Homo sapiens: one gene and its partner. The protein of the gene in region 1 interacts with the protein of each later gene in a pairwise test. Each region holds a gene or a part of one and is shown on either strand. Other genes may lie near its edges.

Evidence for each region.
Region 2: the proteins of MAGEH1 (region 1) and ZSCAN9 interact in binary tests that used the Homo sapiens proteins (3 or more experiments, as listed by UniProt).

The regions. Positions count from the first base shown.
Region 1 is NC_000023.11:55,447,343-55,454,090, reverse strand, and holds MAGEH1 (melanoma-associated antigen H1), read right to left. Parts: upstream 1,965-6,748; 5' UTR 1,717-1,964; coding exon 1,057-1,716; 3' UTR 525-1,056; downstream 1-524.
Region 2 is NC_000006.12:28,228,250-28,234,008, forward strand, and holds the end of ZSCAN9 (zinc finger and SCAN domain-containing protein 9), read left to right. Parts: exon of another isoform or gene 1-1,007; intron 1,008-2,068; coding exon of another isoform or gene 2,069-2,239; intron 2,240-4,312; coding exon 4,313-4,929; 3' UTR 4,930-5,238; downstream 5,239-5,759. UniProt on the Homo sapiens protein: May be involved in transcriptional regulation.

The DNA.
Region 1 (6,748 bases):
TTCTGACGGTCTCATCTTTTTTTATTTCTGAAGTACCCCATGACAACCTTTTCCCCTGCAACCACCCCTTCTCTCTGCCCTCCTCCTCTCAAGATGATTTTTGTGTATTTTCTACTTCCGTGGCAGGCACCCTGTGATGTCCTCTTCTTTTTGCCAGTGCTCCCTCCCCTATGCTGGGTGGAGTATCCAATCAAATATCTAATACATAATATTTTCATCATATATTCTGATCGTATATTTCAGTCCCCCCCAAACTTATTTAAGTGTCTCTTGAATTTTCACACATCCTATGGTGCTCCCTTCCCCGGCCCACTCCCCAAGACAGGTCACATAAGGTTTTTTACATTTTCATGGCACTTCAGGCTCGTTCTCTATCCCAGCATTTACTGCACTGCCAGTTTACCTATTTTTCTTTCCCACATAATCTAGAACATTCTTTGGACCTGGAGGATGTGTACTAGGGAGTATCCCTAGAATCTAGACTGGTGCCTCACATAACAGGTGGTCAGAAAATGCGCAAGATGTACTATTCGTTAGGCTTTTATTTTTCTCTATGTTCTGCAGTAACTAAGGAAAATCATGGTAAATGTCAATCTTCACACAACAGCAGACACAAAGGGTTTCAGAAACGTCAGATATGAAGAAATCCTCCATCCTTCTTCAACATTTTACTGGGTATTTCAACTTCAAAAGAACAGCTTATTTCTATAAGTGCTGTACAAGATCATAGATTATGATGGAACGACTTCATTTTAGAACGTTAGCAAAACTGTTATACTAAATGTCAATGACAGGAAACAAAGAAAAAAATTTGTTCAATTATATTTTTAAACATATTGTTATTCTCAACAAACGGAATTTTAAAACGAATACAATTTTCCATTATCAAAAGCAAACACTCTATTTCGCAGTTGAACAATGATCACTGATCACAAATATCAAATACAGTGTCCCCCGCCCCCAATCGACATCATTTTCAACTTAGGACCCTGGCATCTACTCCTTGGGGTACCTGTGACTCTCTTTTACACCCCCAAGGGTCTGCCTCAGATCTACTTAAGGGGCGGAATAACCCCTAGCACCTGAATTGAGGATAGCCTCAACCTCTGCATCATCGTCCGAATCCCAGTCATAATTACAAGGCCAGTCTTTAGAGCATCGGTTACGAACCCTTGCCACAAAATGCATGACTTTCAGTTTGCTCGATTCCACGTGTGCTCGGGGCCCCCAGAAGAACTCATACTCCACCGGACTGCTACGGGGCACCGGTTTATAAATCAGGTACCCTCTGCGCACAAACTCTTCTGTGACGATCTTCTTCGGATCTCCAAAGATGCTGTGCTGACGTCCAGGCTGCATTCCTAACTTCCCCAGCACTTTCCAGACCAGAGCTTCCTTGGCGCTGTTGCCCATGATGAAGATGAGCGCTAATATAGACATCAGGAGACTTTTCTTGGTGCCCTGAAAATTGCTCCGGGGCACTGAAGGCTTTTGTGCTTGGGCAGTGCTCGAGGCTTCTTCAGGGGTGGTAGAGGCCTCCTCTGGAGTGCTCGGGTCTTCCTCGGGGCCGCTCAGGTCGTCTTCGGGGGTGCTCGCTACCACAGAGGCGGCCATAGGGGTCTCGGAGGCCTCTGAGGCCTGGATTTTGCGATTGTTGCGGTTCTCTTCTGCGGCTCTCGCATTACGGCGGCGCCGACTCTTTCGTCCCCGAGGCATGTCTCCTGCTAGAGGCTCAAAGCTTACAGCAGTCCTAGGGAAGGATGCTTGTAGCCTCTTCAGGAAGCAACAGCTTTATACCGTAAGAAGCTGCTGCCGCTGAAGCTACCAATGTCAATAGAGTCTTTGTAGCAATAAACAAGCCGTTCTCAGCTACAAAGGGTAGTTCCCACGCCAGCTGACTTGCGCGAGCAGCCGCCGCCAGCACTTGCCGCAGCTGCAAGCCCGCGAGAAAGCTCAGCAAAATTGGCCCCGCCTCTCCTGCCACGCACACTCCTAGCACCAAAGAGGAAGTAGGCTGGTCCTCCACAGGGACTTCCGCTAGCAGATAGGAAAAGGGGCAGGCAGCGACAGGGGTGGGACAAGGGCAGAAATGACAGCTAGAGATTGGAGGGGCCTGGAGTTTGCAGAAGAGAAAAAAATAGCTTAAAGTTTCTGTATTTTCAGCCTACTACAAACATTCCAAGATTGGCTCGACGGTCTAGGGAAGGAGTGCGTCGGCTCCATTCCCACTGACGACGGGCTGTGTGTGTGTTGGGGGTTGGGAGGCCAGGGGTGGCGGGAGGGTGTATTCTTGGAAGGAGTCAGCTGTCTCCAGCCTTCCTTTCCTGTCTTGGCTTACACAGCGCGTTCATTCACTCGCCCTGTTTTCAGAAGGCATTTGTGTGTATACTAATCAATTTGTGGTCCCATGTAGGACCCGGATAATATTGTTATGGCAGATGTGCTGGATGATGTGAGGAGATGGGACTGCAGAAACAAGCAGGGTGAAAGAGGTGCAGAGCCTTTAAAATGTGGTAGATATATGCACGATATATATACTGCCCTGCTTTTATACATACATACATACATACCTATATCGTGCATATATCTACCACATTATGTTTATATACAGTGCATATATCTACCACACATATATGTATGTATGTATGTATGAAAGCAGGGCAGTGACAGGATCAGAGGAATTGCATTTGTGCAGCCTCTCAGAAAAGCAAACTGTTTCCTGGCAGACCACATAGGAAGCAATTGGAATAAGAAGCACTGGGAACTAAAGTATGCCTTAAGGCTGTTGCCATGGGGATGGAGAGGCAGAAAGACATTTTAAAGGTGACCGTTGAAGGGCTTTGCAGACAGAATGGATGAAGTGGGGAATGTGGAGGGGATGATGGAGTTCAGATTGGCTCCAAGGTTTCTAGGCTCCAGTCTTCCTGGACTCCTGATTTATTTTGCTTCTTTCAGAGCATACTCTGAACTTTATCCACTGCTTGCTTTTGCTCACTGTTTGCTCTGCCTGACCTGTCTTCTCAGCCTTCTCCAACTATCTAAATTCCATTTGACTGCTCACAGACCTGTTTCTCCCTGAAGCTTGTCTTGATCTGCCCAAAAGGGTAATGAGTCCATTTTTACTCCATTGAGGAAAGCCCTATAACTAGCACTCTATATCTTTCTTATGTCATTCAAGGTATTAGTTTAAGCAAGTCACTTCTCTCTAAGCCTGTTTTCCCATCTATAAAGTGGGGCTAAAGTACAGCCCTCATAGGGTTGTGAGAATTAAATGAGATAAAAAATGAAAAGCATTTATTACATGGTAAGCACAGATTTTGCCTCTCAAGGTTTTCCAAGCGGTGTGTGAGTGTGGCATTTAATAAATGCGTGCTGAAGGAATTCATGATGGAAAAGATTTTATAGGTGTTCTTAACTGAACTCTTAAGAAACAAATGAATACTTTATGCCTGTCTTGCTGAAATTTTCTTTATAATTAGAGCCCACCGAGACCTCCTGTTGGGTAAGTTAGCAATAAATCAATTTGGTCAAGCAAAGAAAGCACCTCTCCAGGACACAGAGCACTCTTGAGCCAGCCCTCCGTTTGGGATAACCTTTGCACGCGTTCTGGGACATGACCTACTCAAAACAGTAGTCTGGCTCCATCTGCTGTCCCACATTCTGAGAATTCTCGCAGTTTCTGGTCCATTGATAATTGCTCTGAATTGTTTTTCAGTACAGGTATGAACTTATTTTACTGTTTCCAGGAATTTGGGTCTTGCATGGAAGTCTATAGCATGTACAATCCTACCCTCATGAAACAAAAATGGGAGGATTACTTTTGCAGTTTATTTGCTTGTTTTTAGCATGAATTTTTTTTTACTGCGACTTAATCTCAAACGTAGGGCAAAGAAGAGAGATTAATATTATAAACACCAATAGCTAGCTGTATAAAATTTAAATATTAGGCCCTACTTACTGTTTATCTTTTATATATTGGATATGGCAAAACCCTCCTATTACGTCTTCCCTGACCCACTCTGCTCTCTCCTTCCCCACTGTGCTCCTCTATAATGAAGTCAGCAATTATGCCCATGGAGACTTGTATATATTTGCTACCTACTTCTGTGTCTGTACACAATATAGAATCTCTTCCTTTATTTAAAGCACGTCTTCATAATGTATACATTGATCAACACTTTGGTTTTCCAGCTCAACTTTATATTTTTTATGTTTACCCATGTAAATACATGGAACTCTAGTTCATTTATTTTAATTTTGTACATTTCATCATTTTCAATTTATCCTGTTCCTAATGATCCACGCCTATGCAGTTCCCATTTTTCCAAAACAAAATAATACTCTTATTAATATTTGTGCGCATGTTCCCTATGAACATGTGCATGCATTTCTCTAGGATCAACATCAACGAGTAGGGTTGCTGATGTGTTGGCATGTATATGTTTAGATAGAACACATGGCTTTCCACTTTGTTTCATTTATAAAAATCAAACCATTCCATATTGAATTTCCAGGCAAACCTTTTTCCTAATTAATAATGAAATCTCCTCAATTTATACCTCTAATTCTTTCATTCTAGTGGCTGAATGTTATTCCTTGCAATGGATTTACCATAATCTCTTCAAGTGTCTGCCTGTTGGCTGGGCGTACTGTATTTCCAACTTATTTAATTTTCTTTTTCTATTATTATTATACTTTAAGTTCTAGGGTACATGTGCACAACGTGCAACTTTGTTACATAGGTATACATGTGCCATGTTGATTTGCTGCACCCATTAACTCGTCATTTACATTGGGTATTTCTCCTAATGCTATCCCTCCCCCTACCCTCCACCCCACGACAGGCCCCAGGGTGTGATGTTCCCCTCCCTGTGTCCAAGTGTTCTCATTGTTCAATTCCCACCTATGAGGGAGAACATACAGTGTTTGGTTTTCTGTCCTTGTGATAGTTTGCTCAGAATGTTGGTTTCTAGCTTCATCCATGTCCCTACAAACGACATGAAATCATCCTTTTTTATGGCTGTATAGTATTCCATGGTGTATATGTGTCACATTTTCTTAACCCAGTCTATCATTGATAGACAGTTGGGTTGGTTCCAAGTCCTTGCTATTGTGAACAGTGCCACAATAAACATATGTGTGCATGTGTCTTTATAGTAGAATGATTTATAATCCTTTGGGTATACACCCAGTAATGGGATCACTGGGTCAAATGGTATTTCTAGTTCTAGATCCTTGAGGAATTGCCACACTGTCTTCCACAATGGTTGAACTAATTTACACTCCCACCAGCAGTGTAAAAGCTTTCTTATTTCTCCACATCCTCTCCAGCATCTGTTGTTTCCTGACTTTTTAATGATTGCCATTCTAACTGGTGTGAGATGGTATCTCATTGTGGTTTTGATTTGCATTTCTCTGATAACCAGTGATGATGAGCATTTTTTCATGTGTCTGTTGGCTGCATAAATGTCTTCTTTTGAGAAGTGTCTGTTCATATCCCTTGCCCACTTTTTGATGGGGTTGTTTGTTTTGTTGAAAATTTGTTTAAGTTCTTTGTAGATTCTTGATATTAGCCCTTTGTCAGATGGGTAGATAGTAAAAATTTTCTCCCATTCTGTAGGTTGCCTGTTCACTCTGATGGTAGTTTGTTTTGCTGTGCATAAGATCTTTAGTTTAATTAGATCCATTTGTCTATTTTGGCTTTTGTTGCCATTGCTTTTGATGTTTTAGTCATGAAGTCCTTGCCCATGCCTATGTCCTGAATGGTAATGCCTAGGTTTTCTTCTAGGATTTTTATGGTTTCAGGTCTAACATTTAAGTCTTTCACCCATCTTGAATTAATTTTTGTATAAGGTGTAATGAAGGGATCCAGTTTCAGCTTTCTACATATGGCTAGCCAGTTTTCCCAGCACCATATATTAAATAGGGAATGCTTTCCCCATTACTTGTTTTTGTCAGGTTTGTCAAAGATCAGATGGTTGTAGATTTGTGGTATTATTTCTGAGGGCTCTGTTCTGTTCCACTGGACTGTATCTCTGTTTTGGTACCAGTACCATGCTGTTTTGGTTACTGTAGCCTTGTACTATAAAGTCAGGTAGCATGATGCCTCCAGCTTTGTTCTTTTTGCTTAGGATTGTCTTGGCAATGTGGGGTCTTTTTTGGTTCCATATGAACTTTAAAGTAGTTTTTTCCAATTCTGTGAAGAAAGTCATTGGTAGCTTGATGGGGATGGCACTGAATCTATAAATTACCTTGGGCAGTATGGCCATTTTCACGATATTGATTCTTCCTACCCATGAGCATGGAATGTTCTTCCATTTGTTTGTATCCTCTTTTATTTCATTGAGCAGTGGTTTACAGTTCTCCTTGAAGAGGTCCTTCACTTCCCTTGTAAGTTGGATTTCTAGGTATTTTATTCTCTTTGTAGCAATTGTGAATGGGAGTTCACTCATAATTTGGCTCTCTGTTTGTCTGTTGTTGGTGTATAGAAATGCTTGTGATTGTTGCAAATTGATTTTGTAACCTGAGACTATGCTGAAGTTGTTTATCAGCTTAAGGAGATTTTGGGCCGAGACAATGGGGTTTTCTAAATATACAATCATGTCATCTGCAAACAGGGACAATTTGACTTCCTCTTTTCCTAAGGGAATACTCTTTATTTCTTTCTCTTGCCTGATTGCCCTGGCCAGAACTTCCAATACTATGTTGAGTAGGAGTGGTGAGAGGGGGCATCCTTGTCTTGTGCCGG
Region 2 (5,759 bases), on another chromosome or scaffold:
TACTTGCGCTGCCTTAAGAGAATACCACAGACTGGTTGTCTTTAACAGAAATTTATTTTCTCACATTTTCAAAGGCTAGTAGTCCAAGATCAAGATACCATCAGGTTTGGTTTCTGGTGAGGCCTCTTCCTGGCTTATAGATGGCCATCTTCTTGCTGTATCCTCACATGGCCTTTCTTCTGTATGCATACAGAGAGAGAGCAAGCTCTCTCATCTTATAAGGACAGATACCATTCCTACCCGATAGGGCCCTTCCTTATAACCTCATTTAACTTTTAATACCTTCCTCAAGGCCCTATCTCCAAATATAATCATATTGAGGGGTTAGGACCTCAGCATATGTGAGGGAATACAATTTAGTCCGTAACCAGTATGTACCTCAGAAAGTCATTGTGAGTATCAAATACAATTTATGAAAAGCACTTGGCATGCATTATGCTTAATACATGGTCACTATTGTCACAAATCACCAGTGCCACCCTTGCTGATTTGGGTTCATACTTGGAGTAGAAAGATATCAGATATGCTTAGTAAGTGGCAGAACTGTATGGGAGAATCCAGTGAAATCAGACTTTGCCATTTCCTTCTCTGTAATCTTCTGAGTGGTGGCAGTGACCACCCTTGTGGATATAGTACTGAGCACTTGGGACTGAGTCAGCTGCTTTCCCATTCTAGCCCTCCCTGCAGGAATTGGCTCTAGCTTGTCTGATTTCCCACACATAAAATCATGCCCTCTTACTGACTTTTTGTTAATGTTCTGACAATCAATCTGTAGCAAGGTTCTACTGTTTTCAGTTTCATATTACCCCTATATGCATCAAAGCTGCAACTTCCCTTGCCTCTTTGTCCCTAGGTTCTGTTTATTTCATTTACCCTAGCAATTATGGATTTCTATTACATGGAACTCATCTCTTGATTTAAATTAAAGTGTATGTGTTGAGTAAATTCTGTGCAGACCTTCTTATAGCTTCTGTGACTTTATCAGATTAAAATTGCTTCTGATATCATTTTCCCTCTTTATGAGCATCTTTCCAGTCAATTTGTTTCTTTCTTCTTCCTCTCTCTATGAACTTGGACCTTTTATTTTCTAGCCACTTCCTTTCTTCTACCTTCCAAACTGCATCTAGAACCCTGCTGAGTATCCCCTTTTCCAAGAAGCACATCTATATTTTCCACCTATCCACTTATCTATCCATCTATCATTCAACAAGTGTTTATTAAGCATCTACTATGGCTGTAGGAGAATATCCAGAGGGCATCTGGAGACTGGAGTGTTCTCCTTGTAGGATATCAGCGCAGGTATGTGTTACAAATTTAGATAAAGCCAATATTATAAAACAACATAGTGTTTGAAATTACAAGGACCAAATTCAAGTTCCAGCTTTTCAAATTCTTAGCCAAGCAATATTTAATAGGTAAGCTTGAGTTTCTTTTTAAGTTATGCTGATTATTTAAAAATCCAAATAATACAAAAGTTTATATAGTAAAAAATGGAAGTTTTCCAAATCCTACTCCCTAGAGGTAGCTACTCTTGTCACTTTGCTGCATATTTTGCAGACGTTTCTCTATATAGTCTGCCTACCCATATATATGTATCTTCCCATATTTTTCTTTTTTTTTTTTTTTGAGACAGAGTCTCGCTCTGTCGCCCAGGCTGGAATGCAGTGGCACGATCTCGGCTCACTGCAAGCTCCGCCTCCCGGGTTCATGCCATTCTTCTGTCTGAGCCTCCCAAGTAGCTGGGACTACAGGCACCCGCCACCATGCCCGGCTAATGTTTTGTATTTTTAATAGAGACAGGGTTTCACTGTGTTAGCCAGGATGGTCTCGATCTCCTGACCTCGTGATTCGCCCGCCTCGGCCTCCCGAAGTGCTGGGATTACAGGCGTGAGTCACAGCGCCTGGCCCATATTTTTCTATAGTTCTTTAAAGAGATGGGATAATAACATCGAGTTTTGTGGTGAGTCAGTTTGATAATATATCTGAAAGTGCTTCATAAGTCATGAAAGTTGTATAAATGGTAATCATTAAAAGGTGGGAAATGTCTGAATTTTTATATTCTACCCAGCTCCCTTATGGATTTCAGATTTAATACGAAGTTTGAGGAGAAGGGCAGTACTGATCCCACTTGGGGCCCATCTGTTCTCTACAGACACATTTTTATTTTCCAAACCTGTTGTGATCCCCCAGCTAAAAGGAGGAGGAGAAACATGGCCTAACAACAGAGGAGTCCTAAGAGGTACCTATTCTTGTATGTGAGAGACAGGACAGTTAGATATGGGAGAAAGAGGCAAATATTTTGGTCAAAAGAGGAGGCCTGGGTCTGTTGTCCTCGGCCTTTTTCTGGGTTGCAAAGTGAAATCAGACTATGTGCCAGGCATGTTTCTCAGGAATAAAACAGAAGGTTCCTCCTCTCGTAGAGATTAGATTGTAGCAAGAGGGAGATAATAATAAATATAAAAGTAAAGAAATGATACAGTGTGTTAAAAGGTGATGAGGCTATGGAATAAGGCAAAAATAGAACAGGATAAGGGAGATTAAGAGTGCTACGGATGAGGCAAACAGATTGTGATATTAAATAGAAGAATTAAGATAGACCTCATTGAGAAGGTGAGTTGAACAAAGACTTAAAGGAAGCGAGAGAGTGGGCCTTGCTTTCATTTGAGGTGAGAAGTTTCCAGGAAGAGAGAAGCACTAGAGCAAAGGTCTTATGATGGGAATGCACCTTGGATAATTGTGGATTTGAAATTCATAAAGTATAGTAGTCCTCACTATTCAAGGGGGATACATTCCAAGACCCCCAGTAGATGCCTGAAACCAAGGGTAATACTGAACCCTGTATATACTATTTTTTTCCTATACATACCTAAGATAAAGTTTAATTTATAAATTAGGCATAGTAAGAGATTAACAACAATAACTAATAATAAAATGGAACAATTACAATTATAATAATATGCCAGCCTCACTACTTTTGCACTTTGGGGCCATTATTAAGTAAAATAAGGGGTATGTAAACACAAGCACTGAGACACTGCAACAGTCAATCTCATAACCAAGATGGCTACTATGTGTGCAACAGGCAGGCAGCATGTACAGTGTGGATATGCTGGACAAAAGGAAGACTCATGTCCTGGGTGAGACAGAGCCAGATGGCATGAGATTTCATCATACTACTCAGAATGGTGCCAAATTTAAAACTTAAGAATTGTTTGTGCTGGGCGTGGTGGCTCACGCCTGTAATCCCAGCACTTTGGGAGGCCAAGGCGGATGGATCATGAGGCCAGGAGTTTGAGACCAGCCTGGCCAGCATGACGAAATCTCATCTCTACTAAAAATACAAACAAACAAAAAATTAGCCAGGCATGGTGATGTGTGCCTGTAGTCCCAGCTACTCGGGAGGCTGAGGCAGGAGAATCGCTTGAATCCGGGAAGCGGAGATTACAGTGAGCCAAGGGGCAACAGAGTGAGACTCCGTCTCAAAAAAAAAAAAAAAAAATTGTTTGCCTCTGGAATCTTCCATGTAGTATATTTGAACTGTGATTGACTGTGGGTAGCTGAAACTTTGTAAAGGCAAAACCACAGATAAGTGGGGACTACTGGACTGCCTGAAGCACCTAAGTAGTAGAAGTTTAATACTTGTTCTGAAAATGAATGAATGAATACATGAAGTAACTTTCCTTGGAAAGGGTCACTTTGAGGTTATCTCAGAAAGGAGAGAGAGGTGTAAGGGAATACTCCAGAGAAGCCACCCTAATCTTTAACCATCCCTCCCTATGAAGTATAAAAAAGGTACTGCCAGCTGGGTGCAGTGGCTCACACCTGTAATCGCAGCATTTTGGGAGGCCGAGGTGGGTGGATCACCTGAGGTCAGGAGTTCAAGACCAGGATGGCCAACATGGCGAAACCGCGTCTGTACTAAAAATACAAAATTAGTTGGGCGTGGGGGTGCGTGCCTGTAGTTTCAACTACTTGGGAGACTGAGGCAGGAGAATCGCTTGAACCTGGGAAATGGAGGCTGCAGTGAGCTGAGATCACACCATTGCACTCCAGCCTGGGCTACAGAGTGACACTCTGGCTCAAAAAACAAAACAAAAAACAACGACTCAGGCCAAGTCTACATGGGGATGGACTGACCTGCATTATGCCAAAGAGGGCAAACGTTCCTCCCTACGTAGGGGAAAGTGTTACCACACTAGCCCTTCTGTTTCTAGCCCACTTCCTTTTCTATGATATATTTTTATAGACATAGTCACCTTCCCATAGGCTCAGGGAACAAGTGACATTTACCTAGCCTTTTTCTTTGTTTCAGATGAAGTAACCAAGACTGAGGACAGAGAGTTGGTGCTAAGGAAAGACTGTCCTAAGATAGTGGAACCACATGGGAAAATGTTTAATGAGCAGACCTGGGAGGTATCACAGCAGGATCCCTCACATGGAGAAGTTGGTGAACATAAGGATAGGATAGAGAGGCAGTGGGGAAACCTCTTAGGAGAGGGGCAACACAAATGTGATGAATGTGGGAAGAGCTTTACTCAGAGCTCAGGTCTCATTCGACATCAAAGAATTCATACTGGAGAAAGACCTTATGAATGTAATGAATGTGGGAAAGCCTTCAGTCGAAGTTCTGGTCTTTTTAATCACCGAGGAATCCACAATATACAGAAACGGTACCACTGCAAGGAGTGTGGGAAGGTCTTCAGTCAGAGTGCGGGTCTTATCCAGCATCAGAGAATCCACAAAGGAGAAAAGCCGTATCAGTGCAGCCAGTGCAGTAAGAGCTACAGTCGGCGTTCATTTCTCATTGAACATCAGAGAAGCCACACAGGGGAGCGACCTCACCAGTGCATTGAATGTGGGAAAAGCTTTAATCGACACTGCAACCTCATTCGCCATCAGAAGATCCACACAGTGGCTGAGCTGGTCTAGGGCTTGGCTATGAGCAAGTTTTCCAGATCACCACCCAAGTTGTGTGGGGCAGGTTGAGACTAGAAAATGCCTCTTTCTTCCTTTCTCCATGAAATGTGTTTGAAACAAATCCTGACTTAAGGCCCAGGGACTTCCTTAAAGGAAAGTTGGGTGTTTGAAGCTACTGTTTTCTCTTTTGTTCATTTTACCTCTTTCTTACTCTTACTAGCTGTGTCCCTCTTATTTATAATTTATTTATTTTTTTGAGATGGCTGCTAAACCCTTCTAATAATATAATAAATGGCACTGCCACAGCCAACATGCCTGAAAGATTTGGTATCTGTGTTTAACTACAAAGGATAACAGAGTTCTACTGATGGTTTATAACAATTGGGTCTTTGGTGTTCCCTGTGACCAGGGTCTACACTATAAACACCTTTTCTACCTTACTGCTTCTCTCTGACACCTACGTGACTCTCCCTTGGAAAGTGACCAGCATTGGCTGTGTGTTTCAGTGTCTGCAGTGTGTGTCCGCTTACTTAACCATAGTTGGTCCTCACAACAGCCACACAGGGAAATGAGCGTTATCATTATCGCATTTTACAGATGAGGACTCCAAGGCTTAGAAAATCCAAGCATCAGAGCCAAGGCTGAAACCCTGAACTTTTATTTTTAGTAATGCTTTAATTTTGGAATAATATTTGACTTACAGAAATGTTGCAGAGATGGAGTTCTCATATTCCCTTCACCTAGATTCTCCTAATGTTAACTTGTAACATCACACCTTTTTAGTTAAACCTTGGCTTTTAACTCCAAATCTCAATTTCTTTATGATGTCAAGCTTTGTACTG